Homo sapiens: one gene and its partners. The protein of the gene in region 3 purifies or fractionates together with the protein of the main gene of each other region. This does not show direct contact. Each region holds a gene or a part of one and is shown on either strand. Other genes may lie near its edges.

Region 1 (3,500 bases), on a different chromosome or scaffold from region 3:
TCTCAAGGGTACAGCTTGGTTACATCCCCAGGCCCCAGGCTGATTCTCCTGCCATCATACTGCAAGCCTTCCTGTACCACTTTGACCCAGGTTGAGGTCTGGCGGAAAATAACCTCAAAGGCAATTAATACAAAAAGCTTCCTGTAAGCTAAGAGGGGTTATCAACTATATGTACTTATTTTTCCAGAGATTGAAGAGAGAAGAGAACGAGCCAAGGCTTGGTTTTGTTTTATGTTGGTGGCACATGTAGACACTTTGGCATAACGAACCCCATAGAGCCTGCAGCCCAATCCACTCTGTTTTGGTTTAGAATGAAGTTTTTTTTTTAATTATTTTTCTTGGAAGTAGGGAGGATTTGAAAGCTTGAAAATCAAGAATCAAAAGACAGTGAATCTAGAAGGCATCTGGGAGCAGAACAGAGATTGAAGACGGGTGGGCACAGGAGAAAGCGCCACCATCGATCCCGGCTGCTGCCCTGGAAATGTGATTTTCTTAATAGCTGAGTTCATGGTTGCTTGAGGTCAGGCCTGGCTATTCATTTCCAGCGATGTCTGACCAGAGAGGACTCATCATTGACGACCTCAGGGTCACGGGGGCGACGCTGACACCGGAACGGCAGCAGCAGCAGGACGATTAAGACAAGGAGGATGGCTCCACAGACGCTCATGAGCGCATAGGACACAATCCACAAAATGGGCTCGCTCAAAGACTGAGCGGGGACACAGTTGCTGGCTACATCCTCTGTTGAGAAAGGCCCGGAAATTTCAGACACTGCAGCACCTGCAATTTCTGGGGAGACAGAAAGGGAAAATCCACAGCTGTGAAATGAGCGGTCCACCTCTCACATTGGACACAGACAGAACCCCTTGGTTTATTAAACCACAGTTAAAGTCCACTGAGGTCCCAGTGGCTTAGACAGCTCAGGAAGCACTGAGTGGGGTCACGGCTCAGCGTGCCTTTGGGGGTCCAGTCCCTGCAAACTGGAACGACGGCATGTTTTAAGGTGTGTGGGTACCGAGCCTAGGTGTGGAGGGGAACTGCAGCAGGGCACATATGGAAGCACCCTGTGCTTCATGGAATGCCAGCGACACTGCGGTACTACACAGGTGAGAGTGCAGGTCAGCACCTGGTCATGACAGCTGTGTGGGTTGTGCTTCCTCAGTGGAGATGAAAAAAGAGGAGAAAGAGAAGGAGAATTTACCGCAGAAAGCTCAGCTGGACCTGCCTACGTCATGGGGAATTTTCCCCAGTGGAGTCAACCTGAGTTCACTCCCTACCATGGATTCTACAACAGATAGGGACCTCATATCAACCTGACTCATAGTCTTAGTGGGTTGTGAGACCTCCGGGGGTCAGGCTGGCTTGAGAGACCCTCCCTGCCCCACTCTTATCCTAGGTCTCATCAACAGCCAGGAGCAGTAAGTGAATGCAACACCTAATTCATGACATCACTGGTGACAAAGAGAAACAGTTAAAATTCACCCGGTGACTTCTGCTAGAGACTCTTGAATAACTTCAAACCAAGAAGGAAGTTGAGATGATTTCTTAAAGCCGGTTTGTGGATTATCTGTAGACTTCCTTTGCCTACACTAGGCTTCTCTGCCCCTTTCAGGAATATGGGATCTTAAGCTTTACTTGCAATACGGAAAAGAAATAGGCCTCATTACCCATTTTTCCTATATTTAATCACAGAAATGAATATTTTGGCACCAGAAAATAACACTGCTAAGAATTTGATTTTTCTGTAACTAAAGCCTCAAGATCTTCAGAGCTGCCAAATAATACCCTTTTTGACTGAGGAAAGAAAAAGTCAAAATAACAATGCGATAATGACCTGAAAAGAATGGTTTTAAAATCAGAGGAAAACAGGCTTGATTACTTTGCAAAGTGACTGCATTTTCTTGCTAATGTGGATTCTGTCATAATATGGCTTTCCTAAGTGCACTGAAAAAGAAAGGCAATGAACAAGAGCCTGCCAACACCGAGAACAGAGGGATGCACCCTGCAGTCAATCTATACTCCCATTTCCTGGTTTGTAGATAATGATCTTCTTGCTGTGTCTTTACATGGTGGAAGAGACAAGGGAGCTCTCTTGGACTGTCTTTAATAATGGGCAGTAATTCCATTTACAAAGAAAAGCTCTGCCCTCGTGACCTAATCACCTTCCAAAGGCCCCAACTCCAAATATCATCACCTTGGAGATTAGGTTTCTGTTGCGGGAAGTCAGGGACCCCGAACGGAGGGACTGGCCAAAGCCATGGCAGAAGAACATAAATTGTGAAGATTTCAGACATTTATTAGTTCCTTAAATTAGTACTTTTATAATTTCTTACGCCTGTCTTTACTGCAATCTCTGAACATAAATTGTGAAGATTTCATGGACATTTATCACTTCCCCAATCAATACTCTTGTGATTTCCTATGCTGTCTTTACTTTAATCTCTTAATCCCATCATCTTCCTAAGCTGAGAATGTATGCCACCTCAGGACCCTGTGATGATTGTGTTAACTGCACAAATTGTTTAAACAATATGAAATCTGGGCACCTTGAGAAAAGAACAGGCTAACAGCAATGTTCAGGGAACAAAGGAGATAACCATTAGGTCTGGCTGCCTGAGAGCCGGGCGGAACAGAGCCATATTTCTCTTCTTTCAAAAGCAAATAGGAGAAATATCGCTGAATTATTTTTCTCAGCAGGAACAGCCCTGAGAAAAAGAATGTGTTCCTAGGGGTAGGTCCCTGAAATGGCTGCTCTGGCAATGTCTGTCTTTTACGGTTGCCGATAAGGGATGAAATAAGCCCCGGTCTCCCATAGCGCTCCCAGGCCTATCAGGACAAGGAAATTTCCGCCTAATAAATTTTGGTCAGACCAGTTGTCTGCTCTCAAACCCTGTCTCCTGATAAGATGTTATCAATGACAATGCGTGCCCAAAGCTTCATTAGCAATTTTGATTTCGCCCTGGTCCTGTGATCTTGCCCTGCCTCCATTTGCCTTGTAATATTTTATTACCTTGTGAAGTATGTGATCTCTGTGACCCACACCCTATTCGTACACTCCCTCCCCTTTGAAAATCACTAATAAAAACTTGCTGGTTTTGCAGCTCAGGGGGCATCACGAACCTGCCGACATGTGATGTCTTCCCTGGACACCCAGCTTTAAAATTTCTCTCTTTTGTACTCTTTCCCTTTATTTCTCAGACCGGCTGACACTTAAGGAAATAGAAAAGAACCTACGTGAAATAATGTTGAATTATCGGGGGCAGGTTCCCCCGATAGGTTTCAACATAAGAATTTTGGCAGGACATAAACATTGATTCTACAGCACTAATTATGCAAAGAAGCAGGAAAACACAGTTCATAATAGGGAGCAAAATCAATCAATTGGAACTTAGTAAGAAATGGCACAGATGATAGAATTAGCAGGCAGGATATCAAGATATTTATTATAACTGTATTCTACTCAGGATGCCAGAGAAAATGTTAAACATGTTAAATAGAGA
Region 2 (3,500 bases), on a different chromosome or scaffold from region 3:
CATCAACTATTCTTCGATCAGCACAAATGATAAAGTTGTCAAAAAAAATGTCAGAGGTCATGGACCACAGCTCCAAACCAATAGCACTAAAAGGAGTCATTCTGAAAGGTTCCAGATCTTCAAAGAAATCTGGATTTGGTATTTTCCTGGGTTTCCAGATTCCCTAGAAAAAAAAATGTTTCAGAAAATCATTTCAGATAATGATCAACAAAAGTTTATGGTGAATCTACCGTAAGAGAAATTTTGCATGAACAATGGAGAGAAATGCCAACTTCATGAAACTTGAAATAAGCAACAGGAAAATAAATAACAAATGCTACAGATTATTTTACGCACTCTGCCTCTAAGACTGCAGGATTCCAACTACTTCCAATTTCTACTGTCACCCATGACCTTGGTCCAAACCAACCCCTCAAGTTCCTGGCCCATTCAACAGCCTCCACTCTTAGCAACTGCTAATGAGAGTGGGAGCATAAGTCAGTACGTACTTCTTCAGTGGTGATTTAAAATAAAACGCACATGATCATCAACCAGCAATTCACTTCTAGATAACTACCTAGAGAAATACTCACAACATACACCCAGACATGTACAAGGATTATTACAGCAGCAGTGACTCTGAAAGCAAAAGTGACAATCCACCTAAATGGCCACCAACAGGAGAACAACTAAAGGGCAACTTCTTTTTCACTGTAACTTCTGCCTCCTGTGTTCAAGTGATCCTTGTGCCTCAGCCTCGTGCCTAAGCAGCTGGGACTACAGGTGTGTGCCACCATACCAGGCCAATTTTTGTGCTTTTAGTAGAGATGGTGTTTCACTATGTTGGCCAGGCTGGTCTCGAATGGCTGACCTCAGGTGATCCACCCACCTCAGCCTCTCAAGTGCTGGGATTATAGGCGTGAGCCACTACGCCCAGCCTAAAGGGCAACTTTTTTAAAGTAAAACTTTTATCTTATTGTTTGACTACACAATTAAAAATACATTCACATAACATCTTTAACGACTATGAGGAAAAAAATAAAAAATTTACAAACAGAAAAACATATATTAGTATATGTATATATACATATACTATGCCAAGATCCTGCTGAAATGTTTTCACAGTATCAGACCAGCTTCTCCTGTTTCTGTATATGTATATACATATATTAGTATTTGTATATAAATAAAGTAGAAATTAATGATTATAAATAATTTTAATTGCCACTCTTTGTAGAGATTATAAATAATTTTACTTGGCTAGAAAGATAAAAGGAACAAAGGTCTGAGGGTGTACATTTTTGCATGAGGCCTAAAGCCTCACAACCTTACTACTTGTATCCTTACCATCTCTTTTGGGCCTCAGTCTTTTTATAGTTGCAAGCATTGAGGCCAAGCAGTGAGCTGACTTGATGTAGTCAAGATGCTGACTCAAACCACAGTCCTCTACCCACCACATCACAGATTGTCCAGACTCAGCTGTGGATCCTATGGCTGAAGCAACCCTAGCACCCAAGAGCAGGGTACCCAAATCAACAGTTTTCCATTTCTCTTTTGTTTTTAAATATAGTTACAAAGCAACTATGAAAGTTATTCTTGGCTGGGCACAGTGGCTCCCGCCTGAAACCCCAGGACTTCGAAAGGCGAAGGCAGGTGGATCACCTGAGGTCAGGAGTTCGAGACCAGCCTGGCCAACATGGCGAAGCCCCGTCTCTACTAAAAATACAAAAAATCAGCCAGGTGAGGTGAGCACACCTGTGAGCACACCTGTGCTCCCAGCTACTCGGGAGGCTGAGTCAGGAGAATTGCTTGAACCCAGGAGGTGGAGGTGGCAGTGTGCCGAGACTGAGCCATTGCACTCCAGCCTGGCCACTAGAGTGAGACTCAGTCTCAAAAAAAGAAAGTTGACCAGATGCAGTGGCTCACGCCTGTAATCCCAGCACTTTAGGAGGTTGAGGTGGGCGGATCGCGAGGTCAGGAGTTCGAGACCAGCCTGGCCAACATGGTGAAACACCATCTCTGCTAAAAATATAAAAATTAGCCAGGCGTGGTGGCAGGCACCTGTAATCCCAGCTACTCGGGAGTCTGAGGCAAGAGAATCGCTTGAAACCGGAAGGCAGAGGTTGCAGTGAGGCGACATCACACCACTGCCCTCCAGCCTGGGTAGAAGAGCGAAACTCCATCTCAAAAATAAATAAATAAATAAATAAATAAATAAAGTTAAAGAAAGTTATTCACTCCAGTTTCTAGGTTTATCTTTGCAATACCTAACCCATTAAGCTCTCTTTCAACTTAGGAAGTCTACTTTCTGCTTTTAATTCAACAGCTTGAATATAATGACCAACCTGGCAGCCTTACTCTAGATAAAACTTCTATCTGAATACAAACAGATTAATGAAAGCAACTCAACCATCAAGAGGCACAAACCTGGTAACTGGGATTGTCAATCATAGGAGGCTTCCATTTGCCTTTATAATTGGGGTTGTCAATCACAGGTCGCTGCCAGACACCACATCCAGGAGCTGACTCACATCTAGGGTTGGCAATCTGAGGAGCCTCCCATTCTCCATCCATGTCTTCATCCCTACGGAGGTACAAACAACAAATTATAAACAGGTTCTGTGATGCAGGACTATGAACAGCTGGCTGGCCCAGGGCTGCCAAGATCCTGCTGAAATGTTTTCACAGTATCCCAGACCAGCTTCTCCTGTATTTCCAGTAATAACAGTTTTTCAGGAAAAATTTATTTTTTAAAAAAGAAGAAAATATAATTAAAATTGTCAAATTCTACCCTGAAATTAGGGAACTTGGCTATATTTAAGTATTAAGATTGACTTCAATAAAAACAGGTAACTTATGCTGGGTGTGGTGGCTCACGCCTGTAATCCCAGCACTTTGGGAGGCCAAGGCAGACAGATCACTTGAGGTCAGGACTTTGAGACCAGCCTGGCCAACACGGTGAAAGTCCGTCTCTACTAAAAATACAAAAAATACAAAAATTTGCCGGGTGTGGTGGCACACACCTGTAATCCCAGCTACTCGCAAGGCTGATGGAGGAGAATCACTTGAACCCAGGAGGTGAAAGTTGCAGTGAGCCGAAACTGCGCCACTGAACTCCAGCCTGGGAGACAGAGTGAGACTCCATCTCAAAAAAAAAAACAAACAAAAAAACCAGGTAATTAAAAAAAGTTAACTGAAGTTCTTACCAATCCTCAGGTTTCTCTGCGTCTGGATCAGGTACGTACTCAGGCTCATCATCTAACCAGCCTTCGGGTTTTGTGGCCTCTTCATCTGGAATCTTAGCAGGGGCATCTTCATCCCTTAAATACAAAAGAAAAAGCCAGTTATGACAACACTGGTCACAGTATAGTACCACTTTGTGGATCAGAACAGAGTATTCTAAAAAAATTTGTTTTTAATCTCAAAATTTAAAATAATTCCTCTTAGAAAATACTTGTAAATCATATATCTGCTAAGGGCCTAGTAAAATAACTCTTTACAACTCAATAATATAAAGACAA
Region 3 (3,500 bases):
GCAACAGAGTGTGACCCTCTTTCTTAAAAAAAATCAAAAACCTAAAACCAGAGCAAAACACTCCAGCTCACAGCTGAAGCTCACAGCTCACAGCTGAAGTACTGAGAGTACATTTCCTTTCTTGTTTTTTCTTGTTTCCCTTAGTTTTCCTTGGGGCTAATTGCATTAGATATTAGAAACGTTGAAAGAAAAATTTAAAAGATGTGAAAAGTAGAACAAAAAACATAAATGACAGATAAAGGTTGGAAAATAGAGAAGAGATAAGATCAGCAAAAGATTCATCCAGGAAAGCCAGTGCTCAGGATCCCGATCCTGGCAGAGCTGACAATCAAGTTGGGGACACTGAAGACACATCTGGCTATGTGACGGTCAAGGGACCTGATGGTGTCCCAGTGGATGGCCTGGACATCCAGCCGCGGGAGGGTCATGCTGGTCCTGGCTGCATCCTTATCTCCTGGATTCCAGCAAAGTCCCCACCTGGCCTCCCTTCAGTCCATCTTGTACAGTTGCCCCCAGAGGTGCCTACACCACACATCTGATCCTGTCATTCTCCTTTTCAGTAACCTTCAGCTTTCCAGCCTTATCTCCCATATCCCAGGCTTCAGATGGCCGGGAATAATCAGTGTTCATCAAACAAGCTCCATCTCTCCCAACTCCCTCACCCATGCTATGAGTGCGCAGCCCTGACTCCCACTGGGAGGCATTTCAGCCTCGCCTGCAGCCACCTCCTCTGTGCCTGTCAAGGCATGCCCCACTCTGCCCTGCATTGTACTTTGCTTTCCCTTCTTGCCTGTGAGCAACCCGGAACTTTGGATTGTGGTTTTTCGCAAGCGAACACCTGTTCTCCGGTGACTAGTGTGAGGATCAGCACTGCACAGGTGCACTGGACATGCTTGGTTCTGTCCACTCAGTACCCGTTTTTCCTTCTGATAACAGTCTCTAGGCTTTTCCCTGGGGAATCACCCTCACCCACTCAAAAGTGCATGTGGCTCAGATGGGGCTGATCCACCACTCCCGGCTCCTAAGGGTCATGTGTCCCAAGACAGACCCACCTCTATATTCCACACACTGACCCTGCCCCCCCAGCCCACACAGAACTATTGGCCTAGGAATGGGACATCTGCTCAACTGCAATTCTGGAGTTTTGTTGATCACAAGGGAAGAGGAAACTGCCTAGGTTTAAAATCAACAACAGAAGAGAACTCAGCAGAGAAAGTTCACAGGCAAGCTGACAGCACCATCTAAGCATTTGGATCCAGTTGTGCAAGGCTTACCCATGGACCCCTCAGCTGAGGGAAGCATTCACTTTCTGCTTAAGTCCTTGGGAGATGAGTTTCTGTCACTTACACCCAAGAGTGGTGATTAGATAGTGACAGTGAAACCCTTGGTGGGGTGAGGTGGGAAGGGTGCAGGGGCAGAGCTTCTGGGGGCTGGCCCTGCGTTGTTTCTCTCTGACAGTGCTAATTACATGGGTGTGTTCAGTTTGTGAAAGTTCACCAAGCTGTACTTTCATTATATGTACTCTGAAGAATGGCATACTTCAATAAAAAGTAAAGAATCCTGACTGAAGAAGATAGTAAGAGTCATGTCAAGGAATGTCCCAAACAACAAATGAGTAGAGGACATGAACAAATACTTGCCATTGCACTCAGATACTCTGTGGTCCACATCCAGAGGGAGGAATTCCCCAGTAGCCCACATGGCTTTCTGCCGAGCACCTTAAAGTCACAGGATCTTCTAAACATCCCTTACCATTTCTTGGCCTGGCCTGAGAGACCTAGGAAGGAGCTATGGTTCTGCCTGATTTGCAAATAGGAAAAGCAAGACATTGACCAAGGATGGTTTTCCATAGCAGGGTTGAGCTGGAGCCCAGGAGTCCTGGCTCTCTGGGCAGCACTCACTTCCAGCCAAGCTCTGCCTACCCTCGACACAGCAGCTCCAGGCCGGGAGTGGTGGCTCACACCTGTAATACCAGCATTTTGGGAGGCTGAGGCAGGTGGCTCACCTGAGGTCAGGAGTTTGGGACAAGCCTGACCAACACGGTGAAACCCCATCTCTACTAAAAATACAAAAATTTGGCCAGGCGTGGTGGCTCACGCCTGTAATCATAGCACTTGGGAGGCTGAGTAGGGTGGATCACAAGGTCAAGAGATCGACATCTTCTTGGCTAACACAGTGAAACCCTGTCTCTACTAAAAATACAAAAAATTAGCCGGGCGTGGTGGCGGGCACCTGTAGTCCCAGCTACTCAGGAGGCTGAGGTGGGAGAATGGCGTGAATCTGGGAGGCAGAGCTTGCAGTGAGCTGAGATCGTGCCACTGCACTCCAGCCTGGGTGACAGACAGAGTGAGACTCCGTCCCCCCTAAAAAAAAAAAAAAAAAAAAAAAGAGAAAAAATACAAAAATTAGCCAGGTGTGGTGGTGGGCACCTGTAATCCCAGCTACTCGGGAGGCGGAGTCAGGAGAATCGCTGGAACCCAGGAGGCAGAGGTTGCAGTGAGCTCAGATCATGCCACTGCACTCTAGCCTGGCAACAGAGTAACACTCCACCTCAAAAAACAAACAAACAAACAAAACCAAAACAACAACAAGACACAGCAGCTCTTCTTGTTACCAGCCTGTTCCAGCCCTGTTCATAGAATCTAAGGGAACAAAATGTAACACTAGGTATAGATCCCAGGTTTAGATTTCTCTGTTTAGAGTTGGCTGGAGGTCATCCCTGTTCGAGAATCCCAAAGCCACCTGGGCACGGTGGCTCATGTCTATAATCCCAGCACTTTGGGAGGCCGAGGCAGGTGGATCACCTGAGGTCAGGAGTTTGAGACCAGCCTGGCCAACATGGTGAAACCTCGTCTCTACTAAAAATACAAAAATTAGCCACCATGGTGGCAGGTGCCTATTTGTAACCCCAGCTACTCCAGAGGCTGAGGCAGGAGAATTGTTTGAGTCTGGGAGGTGGAGGTTGCAGTGAGCAGAGATCATGAGCCATTGCATTCCAGCCTGGGCAACAAGAGCAAAGCCCCGTCACAAGGAGAAAAAAAAAAAAAAAAGAATCCCAAAGGCTGGAAAAAACATACCCAATGAGGAGTCAGTGGCCTTGAGGCATCAAGAGCTACAACTGGGGCCAAACTGCTCTAGTGGAGCCCTGGGCATTTGGAAGGGGGAAGGCTAACAAGGAGCAAAAGAAAGAGGAAGAAAGAAGAGAGAAGAAAACAGAAAATGAGACAAAACATAAAGCAGGGAACATAAAACATAAAACAGGCCAGGTGCGGTGGCTCATGCCTGTAATCCCAGCACTTTGGGAGGCCAAGGTGGGTGGATCACATGAGGTCTGTAATGGGAGGCTGAGGCAGGAGAATCGCTTGAACCCGGGAGGTGGAGGTTGCAGTGAGCCTAGATCACGCCATTGCACTCCAGCCTGGGCAACAAGAGTGAAACTTCGTCTCAAAGAAAAACAAAACCAAAAACAAAACATAAAACATAAAGATGGAAGGTGAGTG
Region 4 (3,500 bases), on a different chromosome or scaffold from region 3:
ATCATGCCCAGCTAATTAAAAAAAAAAATTTTTTTTTGTAGAGACGTGGTCTCACTATGTTGCCTAGTCTCGAACTCCTGGCCTCAAGCAATCTTCCCGCCTTGGCCTCCCAAAGTTCTGGGATTACAGGTGTGAGCCACCACGCCTGGTCTGCTTATTATACCTTTTCAACAAGATTTTATACTGTTGAAATTACTTTTTAGTGCTTTGGGATTCTTTTACAATATGGTCAAAATATTCACTAACTCATCTCATAAGTTATACTAATATTTGATATTTGTTAATTTTGGACTACCTGAGAGTTCTTGTATGGAGCATTTGAATTACGTTTTAGAATTGTATTTTGAAGGCTGGGTGCGGTGGCTCACACCTGTAATCCCAGTACTTTGGGAAGCCGAGGTGGATGGATCACCTGAGGTCAGGAGTTCAAGACAAGCCTGGCCAACATGGTGAACCCCTGTCTCTATTAAAAATATAAAAATTAGCCAGACATGGTGGCGAGCACCTGTAATCCCAGCTACTCGGGAGGCTGAGGCAGGAGAATCACTTGAACCTGAGAGGCGGAGGTTGCAGTGAGCCAAGATTGCGCCACTGCACTCCAGCCTGGGCGACAAGAGTGGAACTCCATCTCAAAAGACAAAACAAAACAAAAGAATTGTATTTTGAAGTTATTTTGATAGATTTTGAAATATTTGGGGGATTTTTTTGATATTTAAAGAAATACACTTTTATAATATCATCTTACATGTAAATCTTAAATACCCTGGAGGCATCAGGCATTATGCTTGTTCTGGTACATAATGTTAAGCTTTTGGCTGTACACTTTTTTATGTCTTTGCAAACTCCCCCCCCCTTCTAACAGCATAACTTTTCTACTGCCATTAATCAGATTAAATAGTATAAAACTATGCTGTAGTCTTTGTTTAGAGGATTTATCTTCATGTTGTGAGTCTCCCTTTGAAGCAGCACAAAAAGACAGTGCTTGTCCTCCTCCTGCTTTTTTTTTTTTTTTAAGATGGAGTCTTGCTTTTATCACTCGGGCTGAAGTGCAATGGCACCGTCTTGGCCCACTGCAACTCCGCCTCCTGGGTTCAAGTGATTCTCCTGCCTCAGCCTCCCAAGTAGCTAGGATTACAGGCGCCTGCCACCATGCCCAGCTAATTTTTGTATTTTTAGTAGAGATGGGGTTTCACCATGTTGGCCAGGCTGGTCTCGAACTCTTGACCTCAAGTGATCCGCCCACCTCGCCTTCCCAAAGGTCTGGGCATGAGCCACTGTGCCCGGCCATGCTGCTGCTTTTTAGTAAGTGTCCTGACAAGTGCCAAAAGTGGAAACCTGGCTTCATTTTGAAATTGATGTTTTTGGCTTCAGGTTTCTCTTATCAAAGCTGGGAAGACTGCAACCTGTTTTAATAGCATTGTACAGTATTACAATGTAATCTAGTACATTTTGAGGTTTTTGACTTAGGTATTACAAATATATTTAGAACATAGGCTATTTCTCTTCCCGTTTGGTAAACCTCTCATCTGCAAAAACACAACTAATATTAAAGTACAGTGTATTGCCAACAAGGATGTTTCTGGTCACTTTTAAGAATAACATTTTAAACAACAACAAAAAAATTTACTTATTTTTAAACTTAATGCATTGTATTTGATTTACATATTCCTTTAATGGAGAAGTTCTTAAATTGGAGTGAACAGAGCTGAGAAACTTTGTGAATTCTCTGCAGTTGTGTGTTTTCTTGGGGAAAGAGGACAGAACTTTCATTAGATACTCAAAGCATTTAGTGAATCAGGAAGGTTAAAAATTACCAAACAGGAACTGTTTGTTTTAGCTTAAGGTTTTCGTCTTTTCTTTTTCCTTCCTGAAAATTAACTACAGAAAATTCCAGGTTTCCAGGGTTGTAGCGAGTTGAATTTTAAGTGATTTGAGATACGAAGTCCACATTTCTGTGGCCTGTCTAGAGGTTCTCATCTTGCTAAATGACATTTAGAAGCAGCATAACTGCTTCTAATCTAGGATTACCACACATCTAGGATTCTAACAGTTTTCATCCATTCATCAAATGTTTACTGAGCACATGCTCTGTGAGAGGCCCTTTACTAAGTACAAATTCACTGAAGAACATGTCTGTCTTCAAGTTCATTCATTTTAGTTCTGTGTGTCAAAGCTCATATAGTAAACTACAAAACTAAATTATGTTGCTGTTCTAGAATTTTTTTTTTTTCTCTTCTGAGACAGAGTCTTGCTCTGTTACCCAGGCTGGAGTGCAGTGGTGCAATCTATGCTCACTTCAACCTCTGCCTCCTGGGTTCAAGCGATTCTCCTGCCTCAACCTTCTGAGTAGCTGGGATTACAGGCACTCACCACCACACAGGGGTACTTTTTGTATTTTTAGTAGAGACAAGGTTTCGCCATGTTGGCCAGGCTGGTCTCAAACTCATGACCTCATGTGATCCACCCACGTTGGCCTCCCAAAGTGCTGGGATTACAGACATGAGCCACCCTGCCTGGCCTGTTCTATAATTTTTTGATGTCATATATTTCAGGCTGGCATTTGGCAGTCACTCAGTACAATGACATTACTCACATTAAGAATACATAATTTACCTAACCCTGGCAGGTGTGGTGGCTCATGCCTATAATCCCAGCACTTTGGGAGGCTGAGGCAAGGGGATTACCTGAGGCAGGGAGTTAGCGACCAGCCTGGCCAACATGGTGAAACTCCATCTCTACTAAAAATACAAAAATTAGCCAGGCAGGGTGGTATGCACCTGAAATCCCAGCTACTCGGGAGGCTGAGGCAGGAGAATCACATGAACCCAGGAGGTGGAGGTTACAGTGAGCTAAGATCATGCCACTGCACTCCAGCCTGGGCAACAGAGCAAGACTATCTCAAAAAAAAAAAAAAAAAAAGAATACATAATTTACCTTATTAAGTAAGCTAATATTATTTATTAAAGTAAATTTACTTATTAAATAAATTTACTTAATACATTTACTGTATTAATTAAGTAGATTACTGGCTTTATTAAGTAAATTATGTATTCCCAGTGTGGTAATGTCATTGCCAAGGGAGTGAAACTTGGTTCTGGGCGTGGTAGTGAAAGAATCGTACTCTTGGCCGGGCGCGGTAGCTCACCCCTGTAATCCCAACACTTTGGGAGTTGAGGCGGGTGGATCACGAGGTCAGGAGATGGAGACCATCCTGGCTAACATGGTGAAAGCCTGTCTGTACTAAAAAAATACAAAGAAATTAGCTTGGCGTGCTGGCGGGCTCCTGTAGTCCCAGCTACTCGGGAGGCTGAGGCAGGAGAATGGCGTGAACCCGGGAGGCGGAGCTTGCAGTGAGCCCATATCGCGCCACTGCACTCCAGCCTGGGCAACAGAGTGAGACTCCGTCTCAAAAAAAAAAAAAGAATCTTACTCCTCTTATGTATAAAAAGGCACACTTACAGTGTACAAACAAATATGTATATTCCATCATATTAAAATTT
Region 5 (3,500 bases), on a different chromosome or scaffold from region 3:
CAATATTACTTCCAGCTTAGAGACTTGGAACAAAGCTAGGAAAGATTATATTTGAACTCGTCTTGAAGTACAGATAGAATGTTGAAGACAGTAGGGTGAAAGGACATTTTAGACGTTGTGACAGTGGTGCTGTAAGAACAGAAAACTAGAAAATAAAAAGGAAGAGGCCAGAACAGAAAACTAAAAAATAAAAAGGAAGAGGCCCTTAATGCCAGACTAAAAAGTTTAGACTTTATTCTGTAGGCAGTTGTGATTATTGTTATGTCCTACCTTGTGTTGGTTGTGGCATGTACTTCGAAAGGAGAAGCATTGAGCAGCCATATATTAATATACTTAAGTAAATAGGAATTTGCATAGATATGGGGGTGAGGGACATCATAAGCAGTTGTTTCTCCCATTCTCAAGTATAATGGCTGTAGAGCTCTGGTCAGCCCACTATCAAAATCAGAGCATATTGGAACCTAATAGGACATTTTGAAATGGCCCTATTGGCTTCCTTTCTCACGTCTCAACTCCACCCAAGATTAAAGTATTTCAATCTTTTTCCCCAAATGCTGCAGTGGTAGAAACATTCATTTTGTCTGCTCGGGCAATGCCCATTTCATCTTCAATATCAGATGTGATATAATAAATATCTTTATGAAATAATTGAAAAAACTAGGCATTTGGGGGAACACCAAGTAAACTGTAGAAATAATGAGAAAATATTACTAGAACAGAATAAATTAATTTTTTGTTATACTTACAACACTTTAAGATGGTATCAAAAAAATTAAATGCTGAAAAAGATTAGCTTGTATTTTGTAACTATAAAAGAGTGAAGCTGACTCGTTATGAGTCCCAAAACAGAGCTATTTGGTATTATTTTTTATTTGAGAAGTAATGGAGCATTTTATTGTAAAAAATGCAGTTTAAAACAAAATTTTATCTTTAGGAAATGTATCTAGTGATTTTAGAATGTTTTAGTTCAATACATTGGTTATTCCTCTATTTCTGGTTGGGAAAAAAGCTTTACCCATGGAGTTAAGGGTAGTTACATTATTTAGAAGATTATCTTTAAAGCGTATATCAAAATGATAACTATAATTTATTTAAATTGGTCCCTTAGTGATGAATCCAGATGACACATTTGAGGTGTTAGTTGATCAAACAGTTGTAAACAAAGGAAGCCTCCTAGAGGATGTGGTTCCTCCTATCAAACCTCCCAAAGAAATTGAAGATCCCAATGATAAAAAACCTGAGGAATGGGATGAAAGAGCAAAAATTCCTGATCCTTCTGCCGTCAAACCAGAAGACTGGTAAGCAAATAATTCGGTAGCAAAGCATTATCTGGCATAACTAGGTAATGAAACAACATATAAGTGAAGTTTACAACCCATGAAGTTTATTTTTTTAAACATCAGAACTACTTATTTTTAGTATTTTGGGTGAAATATTTTCTAAAATGGATTTTACACTTCCCTCCCTGTAATTTTTTTTTATTTCTATTGATAATTATGTTGCATTTTTTAATATATATTTATTTTTTATGTTTTCAATGCTGTGGATTAAAAATTTCATAAATCCAAAATACCAGTGCTTTAATTTTCATTCCTAGTTTGATCTTTATTGTATGTGTGTGAGAGTCCGAGGTGGGCAGATCACCTGAGGTCAGGAGTTCGAAACCAGCTTGGCCAACATGGCGAAACCCCGTCTCTACTAAAAACACAAAAATTAGCGGGCATGGCGGCGGGTGCCTGTAATCCCAGCTACTCGGGAGGCTGAGGCAGGAGAATTGCTTGAACCCAGGAGGCAGAGGCTGCAGTGAGCCCAAGGTCGTGCCACTGCACTCCAGCCTGGTGACAGAGCAAGATTCTGTCTCAAAAAAAAAAAAAAAAAAAAAAAAGAGTATGTTTGCCCTTAAATGAGAGAAACCACATATAACTGCTTCATTCTGATTGTTGAAATGTGTTAGAATTTGTTTTACAAAGTACTAAAAGAAATGCTCCATTAAATTTTAACTTTTGGTTACTCTGAGCACTCAGAAACTCAAGATGACATTGGTATCAGGCAAGCACAAATCTATACATTTGTAAAGTTGATTATTTCTGTTTATTTTGTAACTCATTTGGAAAATCATGAAGTGTCCTCTTGTTTAAAATTTCTATCTTTCTGTAATGATGAAAATTGTATTAGTAGTTCAGTACTTTATGTTTATATACTTCAGAATTTACTAAGTGTTTTGTTTTTGTTTTTGTTTTTGTTTGAGATGGAATCTCGCTCTGTCACCCAGGTTAGAATGCAATGGCGTGATCTCAGTTCACTGCAGCCTCTGCCTCCTGGGTTCAAGGGATTCTCCTGCCTCAGCCTCATGAGTAGGTGGGATTACAGGCAAGCGCCACCACGCCCGGCTAATTTTTGTATTTTTAGTAGAGATGGGATTTCACCATGTTGGTCAGGCTGGTCTCGAACTCCCGATCTCGTGATCCTCCCGCCTCAGCCTCCCAAAGTGCTGAGACTACAGGCTTGAGCCACCACGCCAGCCTAAGTGTTCTTTTTAAAATAAGAATGCTAGAATTAAATAAGGAGAGTTTTAAAAATTATATTGGAATAGGGAAGAACTTTCCAAATATGACATAAAATCCAAGAATCCTTTAAAAATAAGTTCAACTACATGAAAATAAATGATTTGTATATTGCAAAAAAAAAAACCTCCCTAAACTATTTCAAAAAACACACAAGAACCAGGAAAAATTATTTTCAATCATATAGCTGACAGAGAGCTAATTTCTTAGTATAAAGGTAATGAGCTAAGAAAAAATAGTTTTTGTGTATCACTTATGCTACTAAATGTACATTCAAAGTTCAGTGAGATACCATTTTTCACCTACCACATGGGCAGAAATCAAGAAGTTTGGTAACACTCTTCGCAAGGACAGGAGAAAATAGGTACTTTTGCATGCTGCTGGTAGAACCGGAAGTGGAGTGTAACCATTATAGAGAGTAATTTGGATGCTACTATCAAAATTTAAAATGTCCATACTCTTAACAATTATATTTTCACAGATGAGAAATGGCATATATTCTAGGACATTCACTATGGCATTGTTTGTATTAATAATAGTAAAATTTTGGAAACACTAAATGTCCTCCAAGAGGAGATAAGCTAAATAAATTATGGTGTATCCTCAAGTAGAAAACTATGCAACTGTTAAGAATGAAGCTATGTGTATATATATATATGTGTATATATATATATATACATATATATATATATACATATATATATATATATGTATATATATATGCTCCAGCCAGGCATGGTGGCTCATGCCTGTAATCCCAGCACTTTGGGGGGCTGAGGTGGGTGGATCACCTGACGTTAGGAGTTCAAGACCAACCTGGCCAACATAGTGAAACCCCATCTCTACTAAAAATACAAAAACTTAGCCAGGCGTGGTGGCAGGTGCCTGTAATCCCAGCTACTCTGGAGGCTGAGGCAGGAGAATTGCTTGAACCCG
Region 6 (3,500 bases), on a different chromosome or scaffold from region 3:
TTTTCTATTTCTAATCACTGCCTAGACTATCACAACAGATAATCTATGCAATAATGGGTTTCCTCACAGCACTTTTAGAAGCAAAGTTTTTATACTCACTTGTAAAAGTAAAGTTCACAAATACAGCTCACAAAAGCCAGAAGACATCGCAAAAAGTAAAACACAAGAATCTAAAAGAAACCCAGAAAAAGAAAACAGAAGTCACAGATATGAGCTAGAAAAACTCATAAACATGAACCACTCTCATTTATTGTCAATAACACTGTAAATTGGTATAATTCTTTTGAAAAGCAACATGGATCAAGAATTTTCATATCCCTTGACTCAATATCAGTATACCTACTTCTATCACTCCAGCTGGTGGGGGTTGGGAGGTAGAGCTCCATTCATGAAAATGTTAATTGCAGTTTTAGTAAAAACTGTTTCAAAAACTACAAAATATCCAATTATAGGGAAATGATTAAATAAACTAGGCTACATCTAGCTCATGGACAATTATACAGCTATTAAAATTTATGTTTACAAAGATAGTGAAAACATTCTTGCAATATAATGCTCATTCAACAAGCAATTCTTCAACAACCATAATATATCAGGTAGTGATTATGACAAAATATTAAGAGAAAATGTACAATATTATTTATACATCAGTTACAGCTATGGACACTATATGCATGTGGAAAGACTGGAAAGAAATGTAATAAAATGGTAAAAGTAGCTATAGCAACCTGGTAGATTTAGATGAGTATTTTTCCTCCTATCTTCCAAAGTTCTGTTATGTGGCTTTATTAATTTTATAATTGACATCAATTTAAAAAATAAAAATAATAAAATAGGGGTTATATTAAGTAGCTTTATACTACAGAATACCATATGGTTAAGAGCACTGAATTTCTCAGAACTTAAACACTACTTAATATATAGTATAACTGGCCGGGCATGGTGGCTCACACTTGTAATTCCAACACTTTGGGAGGCCGAGGCAGGCGGATCACTTGAGGTCAGGAGTTCGAGACCAGCCTGGCCAACATGGTGAAACCCCATCTCTACTAAAAATACAAAAAAATTAGCCAGGCATGGTGGCGGGCAACTGTAACCCCAGCTACTCGGGAGGCTGAGGCAAGGGAATTACTTGAACCTGGGAGTCGGAGGTTGCAGTGAGCCGAGATCGTGCCACTGCACTCCAGCCTGGCGACAGAGTGAGACTCCATCTCAAAAACAAACAAAAAAAATGGGCCTACTTGTGGGATCTCACTCCTGAGTGTACACTTCAGAGAAATTCACGAACAGGTCCATGAAGAGATAATACAAAGGTGCTTTCATTTGGGGTAGCAAGAGATTGAGAAGGTAGCTATCACTAGATGTGCCAATTGTTACCACCCTGTCTCTCAGAAACAACCATCCTTCTCTACTCAACGTTATGATGCTGGGGCTAAGACTCTCTAAGCTACAATTCCCCTTTGCTGAATGGCTAGGAAAAAGGAGATCAGAAGTAAGAACAAGAGAAGAAGAGAAATCTTGCTTTCCATTTCACTTGCTGTGCACATCAGTGATGTAACAGGATTAGAGAAGAGGAAGAATTCTGTGTTGAACATGTAAAATTTGAAGTGATACTAGATAGCCAAATGGAAATAAAAACCCTCTGCATAGCACATTGTTAGTTTTCTGCTGAGCCCTTCACCCTTTATTATCTTTCCTTTGACAAGTTCAAAAAAAAAAACCAGAAATGAGGCCAGGTGCAGTGGCTCACGCCCGTAATCCCAGCACTTTGGAGGCCAAGGCAGGTGGATCACTTGAGGTCAGGAGTTTGAGACCAGACTGGCCAACATGGTGAAACCCTGTCTCTACTAAAAATACAAAAAAATTAGCCACACGTGGGGGCTCAAGCTTGTAATCCCAGCCACTCAGGAGGCTGAGGCAGGAGAATCACTTGAATCCGGGAAACGGAGGTTGCTGTGAGCCGAGATCACATCACTGCACTCCAGCCTGGGCGACAGAGTGAGACTTCGTCTCAAAAACAAACCAAACAAACAAACAAACAAAAAAATGGAAATGAGATACCGGATAGGGAAGGGAGGGACAGTATTTTGTCACTTTCTGCAGGTGCCACCTTTCTGATCATTCTAAAATGTAAATGCAATCATACCTCTCTTTTGTCTGAAAACCTTGCAGTGGCTTTACATAACAGACTTGGGGGGAAAAGAACAACAGTCTAATACCTTAATAGATCCTACCAGGTCTTGTAGAAATCTCAAACTGAATGAAAACAGTCCATCGATAGATTCCAACACCAAGATGACAGAGGTGTCAGAATTATCTAACAAAATTTAAAGCGGGCTTTGTAAAAATATTTCAGTGAATAACTAAGAATATGCTTGAAGCAAATGAAAAAGGAGAAGGTCTCAGTAAAAAAAATTAGAAGATATAAAGAAAAACTGAATGGAAATTTTAAAACTGAAAAAGTACATAGAACAAACTAAAAATGCAATGGACGGGGTCAGCATTGGAAGAGGGGACATAGGAAAGAATCAGTGAAGTGGAAGACAGAAGAAAAGAAATTACTCAATGTGAACAACAGTTCATTCAGTTTGAGATCTTCCTGATTCTCGGTATGACAGGTCATTTTCAGTTGAAAGCTGGACATTTTAGGTATTGCATTATGAGATTCTGGATTATTCATGGGCTCAGCATGCTTTCTTTGCACTGTTGTGCTCCTACGATCTTATTTAAGCTTTCTGTTTTAGCTGGCTTCTTTTGATACTACTTCCCACTAACCCAGCAGGGAAAGAGCGTTAGTGGGAAGTCTCTACCTTGTTACCGCCAAGTGGAGGTAGAACTCGAGGTTCCCTACCAGGCCTCCACTGACCATTGAGAGAAAATAAATTGAAAACAGAGTCTCAAAGACCTGGGGGACTAATAACAAAAGATCTGACATTCACATCATCAAAGTTCCAGAAGAAGAGGAAACCGGACAGGGCTGAAAAAGTATTCAAAAAAATAAAAACTAAAACCTTTCCAAATTTGGCAAAAGGAATAAGCCCAAAGATTCAAGAAGCTGAATAAACTCCAAACAGGACAAACCCAAAGAAATCCACACCAAGACGCATCATAGTCAAATTTCTGAAAACTAATCAGGTTAGGTCCCAGTTAACATCTAATTATTTCTCAGCACTCTACTTAAATTAGACCCTCCTAATATGCTATTCCACCGTACATTGTACTTTTCCTCCATAAGACCCACCATATTTAGAATGATTTGTTCAATGTTCATCTTCTCCACTAAACCACAAGTTTCATTAAGTCAGGGGCTTGGTTACTGTTATAGCCACAGCACTTAATACAGTGTCTACCAAATAAAAGTTGTTTCATTAATGCTTGTTGAATGGTGAATTGGATAAATGATTCTTCTTCAAAAAAAGTTCCCTTTTAACTTCCAATTCATTTTGTCCTTTTCTCAAAACTATACCAGAGACTCACCTCTTGATCAATTGTGATTGCTT
Region 7 (3,500 bases), on a different chromosome or scaffold from region 3:
CTCAGTTTGTATCACTTGAGTGATCTTCTGTCCTTTCAGAGATATCATTTACCTTTATAGCTTCGTCTGTCACCTTCATGAGATTAATTTTCAAATTTCTAGGCAGGTCTTGTTTTTCCACCTCCAGAAACATATTTAACTATTGGCTAGAAATTTCAACTTGGCTATCCCATATCATTTAAAACCAAACTTAACAAAAATGAAAGAAAACCAAATTATCAACCTTTCCCCAAAACTGACTTCCTTTTCTGACTTTCCTGCCTTTGTTTATTTATTTATTTATTTATTTAAATTTTTATTTTTTTAATAGAGAAAAGATTTTGCCATTTTGCCCAGGCTGGTCTCAAACTCCTGAGCTCAGGTGATCCACCCGCCTCAGCCTCCCAAAGTGCTAAGATTACAGGCATGAGCCACTGAGCCCAGCTGTTTCCTACCTTTATTAATGGTTTCAAAAGTTGGTTTCCAGACTCAAAATGAGTTGTTATTGAAACTTTTCTCCATTATCATTCATATCCAGTTTGTCACTAGGGCCCACTTCAAATGTTATTTTTGTCTTTGCACTATCACTCCATACTATATTTTAAACTTCTTGAGGACAGAGACAGTATATTATGCTTCCTTACATTCTTGCAATTTTTAACCAGTAACATATACATGATATATTGAAAGATTTTAACTTGAATGAAGTGAAGGAATCAGGGTTCCTTCTTTCTCCTTTTCTCAAAGGTACTGCTAAAGTCAGACAGCCCAACAGGTGATGTTTTACTGGATGAAACTCTGAAACACATCAAAGCAACTGAACCCACAGAAACTGTCCAAACATGGATAGAGCTACTCACTGGTAAGATGACTTAAAATAATATATGAATTTCACACTTTGTTATCTTTATCCTACCCTGAAATTTAGTAAAAGATGTACCGAAATTCATCGTGCTGGATGAGATAGATGTGGTTCACTATTTAATTCTAATGAGGGACAGAAAAAGCATGGTTAATTGATACCTAAAGTTTTCCAAAGCTTCACCTTATCTTCTGCCACCCCACCCCAAAAGCCCTTAAATAGTATTCTTCACAAGAAACTTTTAAAACATCTTTATTGAGAGGACAATGAGAATATTGGCATTGATGCAGTCTATTATTCTTATTAGAATTTCCCAGTTTTAATTTGCCAAATAATATTTTATTGCATGGCCATACCACATTTGTTTATCCAGTCATCAGTTGATGAATCTTTGAGTTATTTCCACATTTTGGGTATTGTGAATAATGCTGCTGTGAACACGCACGGACAAGTTTTTGTTTGAACATGTTTTCATTTCTTGTGGGTATGTAGCTAGGAGTAGATAACTGGGTCATATGTAAATCAACGAGTAACATTCTTACTGTGGTAAAATATACATAACATTTATTATTATTATTATTATTTCGAGATGGAGTCTTGCTCTGTCGTCCAGGCTGGAGTACAGTGATGCAATCTCAGCTCACTGCAACCTCTGCCTCCCGGGTTCAAGCAATTCTCCTGCCTCAGCCTCCCAAGTAGCTGGGATTACAGGCACGTGCCACCACGCCTGGCTAATTTTTGTATTCTTAGTAGAGACAGGGTTTCACCATATTGGCCAGGCTTGTCTCGAACTCTTGACTTCGTGATCTGCCCGCCTTGGCCTCCCAAAGTGCTGGGATTACAGGCGTGAGCCACCGCGCCCAGCCAACATTTATTATTATTTTAGCCATTCTTAAGTGTACAATTCTGTGAAATTAAATATATTTGCAATATTTTGTAACCGTCACCTCTATCTATACTATACCCAAAGCTTCCTCATCATTACCCATTAAAACTCTGTACCTATTAAATGATAACTTCCTCTTTCTCTCTCCCCCCAGTCCCTGGCAACCTCTATTCTACTTTCTTTTTCTATGAATTTGCTTACTCTAGGTACCTCATATAAGTAGAATCATACAATATCTGTCATTACTTTCCCTAGCTTATTCACCAAGCATAATGTTTTCAAGGTCCATTCATGTCACAGCATATATCAAAATTTCATTCCTGTTTATGGCTGAGTGATATTCCGTTGTATGTATATAACACTTTCGTTTAACCATTCATCTGTTGATGGACACTTGCCTTGTTTCCACCTTTTGGCTATTGTGAATAATGCTGCTGTGAACATTGATACACAAATATCTGTTCAAGTTCCTGTTTTTAATTCTTTTGGATATATACCTAGGAATAGAATTGCTGGGTCATATAGCAGTTTTATGTTTAACCTTTTGAGAAATCACCAAACATTTCCACAGAGACTGCACCATTTTATATTCCCACCAGTATGCACCAGGGTTCCAATTTGTCCACATGCTGATCACCACTTGTTCTTCTCTTTCTTTTCTTTTTTTTAATTATAGACATCCGAGTAGGCCTAAAATGTTATCTCATTGTGGTTTTGATTTTTATTTTCAAATGAAAATAGTTTTCATGTCATTCCTAATGACTAAAAATATTGAGCATATTTTTATGTGCTTACTGACCATTTATATATCTTCTTTGGAGAAATATAAAATACTTTTCCCATTTTTAAGTTTGATTGTTTTGTTGTTGTTGAGGTTTTTTTGTATTTATTTATGAGATGCGGTCTCACTCTGTCACCCAGGATGGAGTGCCGTGGTGCAATCTCGGCTCACTGCAACCTCTATCTCCCGGGCTCAAGGATCCTCCCACCTCAGCCTCCCAAGTAACTGGGACTATGGGTGCGCACCATCACACCTGGCTAATTTTTTGTGTTTTTGGTGGAGATGGGGTTTTGCTATGTCACCCAGGCTGGTCTCTGAACTCCTGAGCTCAGACAGTCTACCCATCTTGGTCTCCCAAAATGCTGGGATTACAGGCATGAGCCACTGTGCCTGGCCAGAGGTTCTTTATATATATTCTGGATATTAATCTTGCCGAGACCAGCTCAGTTGTGGAGACCCTAACCCAGTGGCGCTAGAGGAATTAAAGACACACACACACAGAAATATAGTGTGGAGTGGGAAATCAGGGGTCTCACAGCCTTCAGAGCTGAGAGCCTTGAACAGAGATTTACCCACATATTTATTGACAGCAAGCCAATCATAAGGTTTACTAAAAGTATTCCTTATGGGAAATAAAGGGATGGGCCGAAATAAAGGGACGGGCTCTGGCTAGTTATCTGCAGCATGAACATGTCCTTAAGGCACGGATCTCTCATGCTATTGTTTGTGGTTTAAGAACACCTTAAGCAGTTTTCCGCCCTGGGTGGGCCAGGTGTTCCTTGCCCTCATTCCAGTAAACCCACAACCTTCCAGCATGGGCATCAAGGCCATCACAAGCATGTCACAGTGCTGCAGAGATTTTGTTTATGGCCAGTTTTGGGGCCAGTTTATGGCCAGATTTTTGAGGCCTATTCCCAACACGTCCCCCTTCTTTGTTTTACAAAGCAATAAAAGCAAAGGCAGCTTTGTCAAGGTGAGCTACTTCTCACAGA

Evidence for each region.
Region 1: the proteins of CHST6 (region 3) and BACE2 purify together in Homo sapiens (affinity purification with mass spectrometry; 2 studies listed by BioGRID and IntAct, with this or other methods). This does not show direct contact.
Region 2: the proteins of CHST6 (region 3) and CANX purify together in Homo sapiens (affinity purification with mass spectrometry; 2 studies listed by BioGRID and IntAct, with this or other methods). This does not show direct contact.
Region 4: the proteins of CHST6 (region 3) and GOLPH3 purify together in Homo sapiens (affinity purification with mass spectrometry; 2 studies listed by BioGRID and IntAct, with this or other methods). This does not show direct contact.
Region 5: the proteins of CHST6 (region 3) and CLGN purify together in Homo sapiens (co-immunoprecipitation; one large-scale study listed by IntAct). This does not show direct contact.
Region 6: the proteins of CHST6 (region 3) and ALG9 purify together in Homo sapiens (affinity purification with mass spectrometry; 2 studies listed by BioGRID and IntAct, with this or other methods). This does not show direct contact.
Region 7: the proteins of CHST6 (region 3) and GOLPH3L purify together in Homo sapiens (affinity purification with mass spectrometry; 2 studies listed by BioGRID and IntAct, with this or other methods). This does not show direct contact.

The regions. Positions count from the first base shown.
Region 1 is NC_000021.9:41,272,660-41,276,159, reverse strand, and holds part of BACE2 (beta-secretase 2 isoform A preproprotein), read right to left. Parts: intron 790-3,500; coding exon 536-789; 3' UTR 1-535. UniProt on the Homo sapiens protein: Responsible for the proteolytic processing of the amyloid precursor protein (APP).
Region 2 is NC_000005.10:179,719,467-179,722,966, reverse strand, and holds part of CANX (calnexin isoform d precursor), read right to left. Parts: intron 3,300-3,500; coding exon 3,186-3,299; intron 2,564-3,185; coding exon 2,407-2,563; intron 164-2,406; coding exon 1-163. UniProt on the Homo sapiens protein: Calcium-binding protein that interacts with newly synthesized monoglucosylated glycoproteins in the endoplasmic reticulum. It may act in assisting protein assembly and/or in the retention within the ER of unassembled protein subunits.
Region 3 is NC_000016.10:75,485,442-75,488,941, forward strand, and holds part of CHST6 (carbohydrate sulfotransferase 6), read right to left. Parts: intron 1-3,500. UniProt on the Homo sapiens protein: Sulfotransferase that utilizes 3'-phospho-5'-adenylyl sulfate (PAPS) as sulfonate donor to catalyze the transfer of sulfate to position 6 of non-reducing N-acetylglucosamine (GlcNAc) residues of keratan.
Region 4 is NC_000005.10:32,164,320-32,167,819, reverse strand, and holds part of GOLPH3 (Golgi phosphoprotein 3), read left to right. Parts: intron 1-3,500. UniProt on the Homo sapiens protein: Phosphatidylinositol-4-phosphate-binding protein that links Golgi membranes to the cytoskeleton and may participate in the tensile force required for vesicle budding from the Golgi.
Region 5 is NC_000004.12:140,396,649-140,400,148, reverse strand, and holds part of CLGN (calmegin precursor), read left to right. Parts: intron 1-1,108; coding exon 1,109-1,298; intron 1,299-3,500. UniProt on the Homo sapiens protein: Functions during spermatogenesis as a chaperone for a range of client proteins that are important for sperm adhesion onto the egg zona pellucida and for subsequent penetration of the zona pellucida.
Region 6 is NC_000011.10:111,865,082-111,868,581, forward strand, and holds part of ALG9 (alpha-1,2-mannosyltransferase ALG9), read right to left. Parts: intron 171-3,500; coding exon 100-170; intron 1-99. UniProt on the Homo sapiens protein: Mannosyltransferase that operates in the biosynthetic pathway of dolichol-linked oligosaccharides, the glycan precursors employed in protein asparagine (N)-glycosylation.
Region 7 is NC_000001.11:150,659,155-150,662,654, reverse strand, and holds part of GOLPH3L (Golgi phosphoprotein 3-like), read left to right. Parts: intron 1-726; coding exon 727-841; intron 842-3,500. UniProt on the Homo sapiens protein: Phosphatidylinositol-4-phosphate-binding protein that may antagonize the action of GOLPH3 which is required for the process of vesicle budding at the Golgi and anterograde transport to the plasma membrane.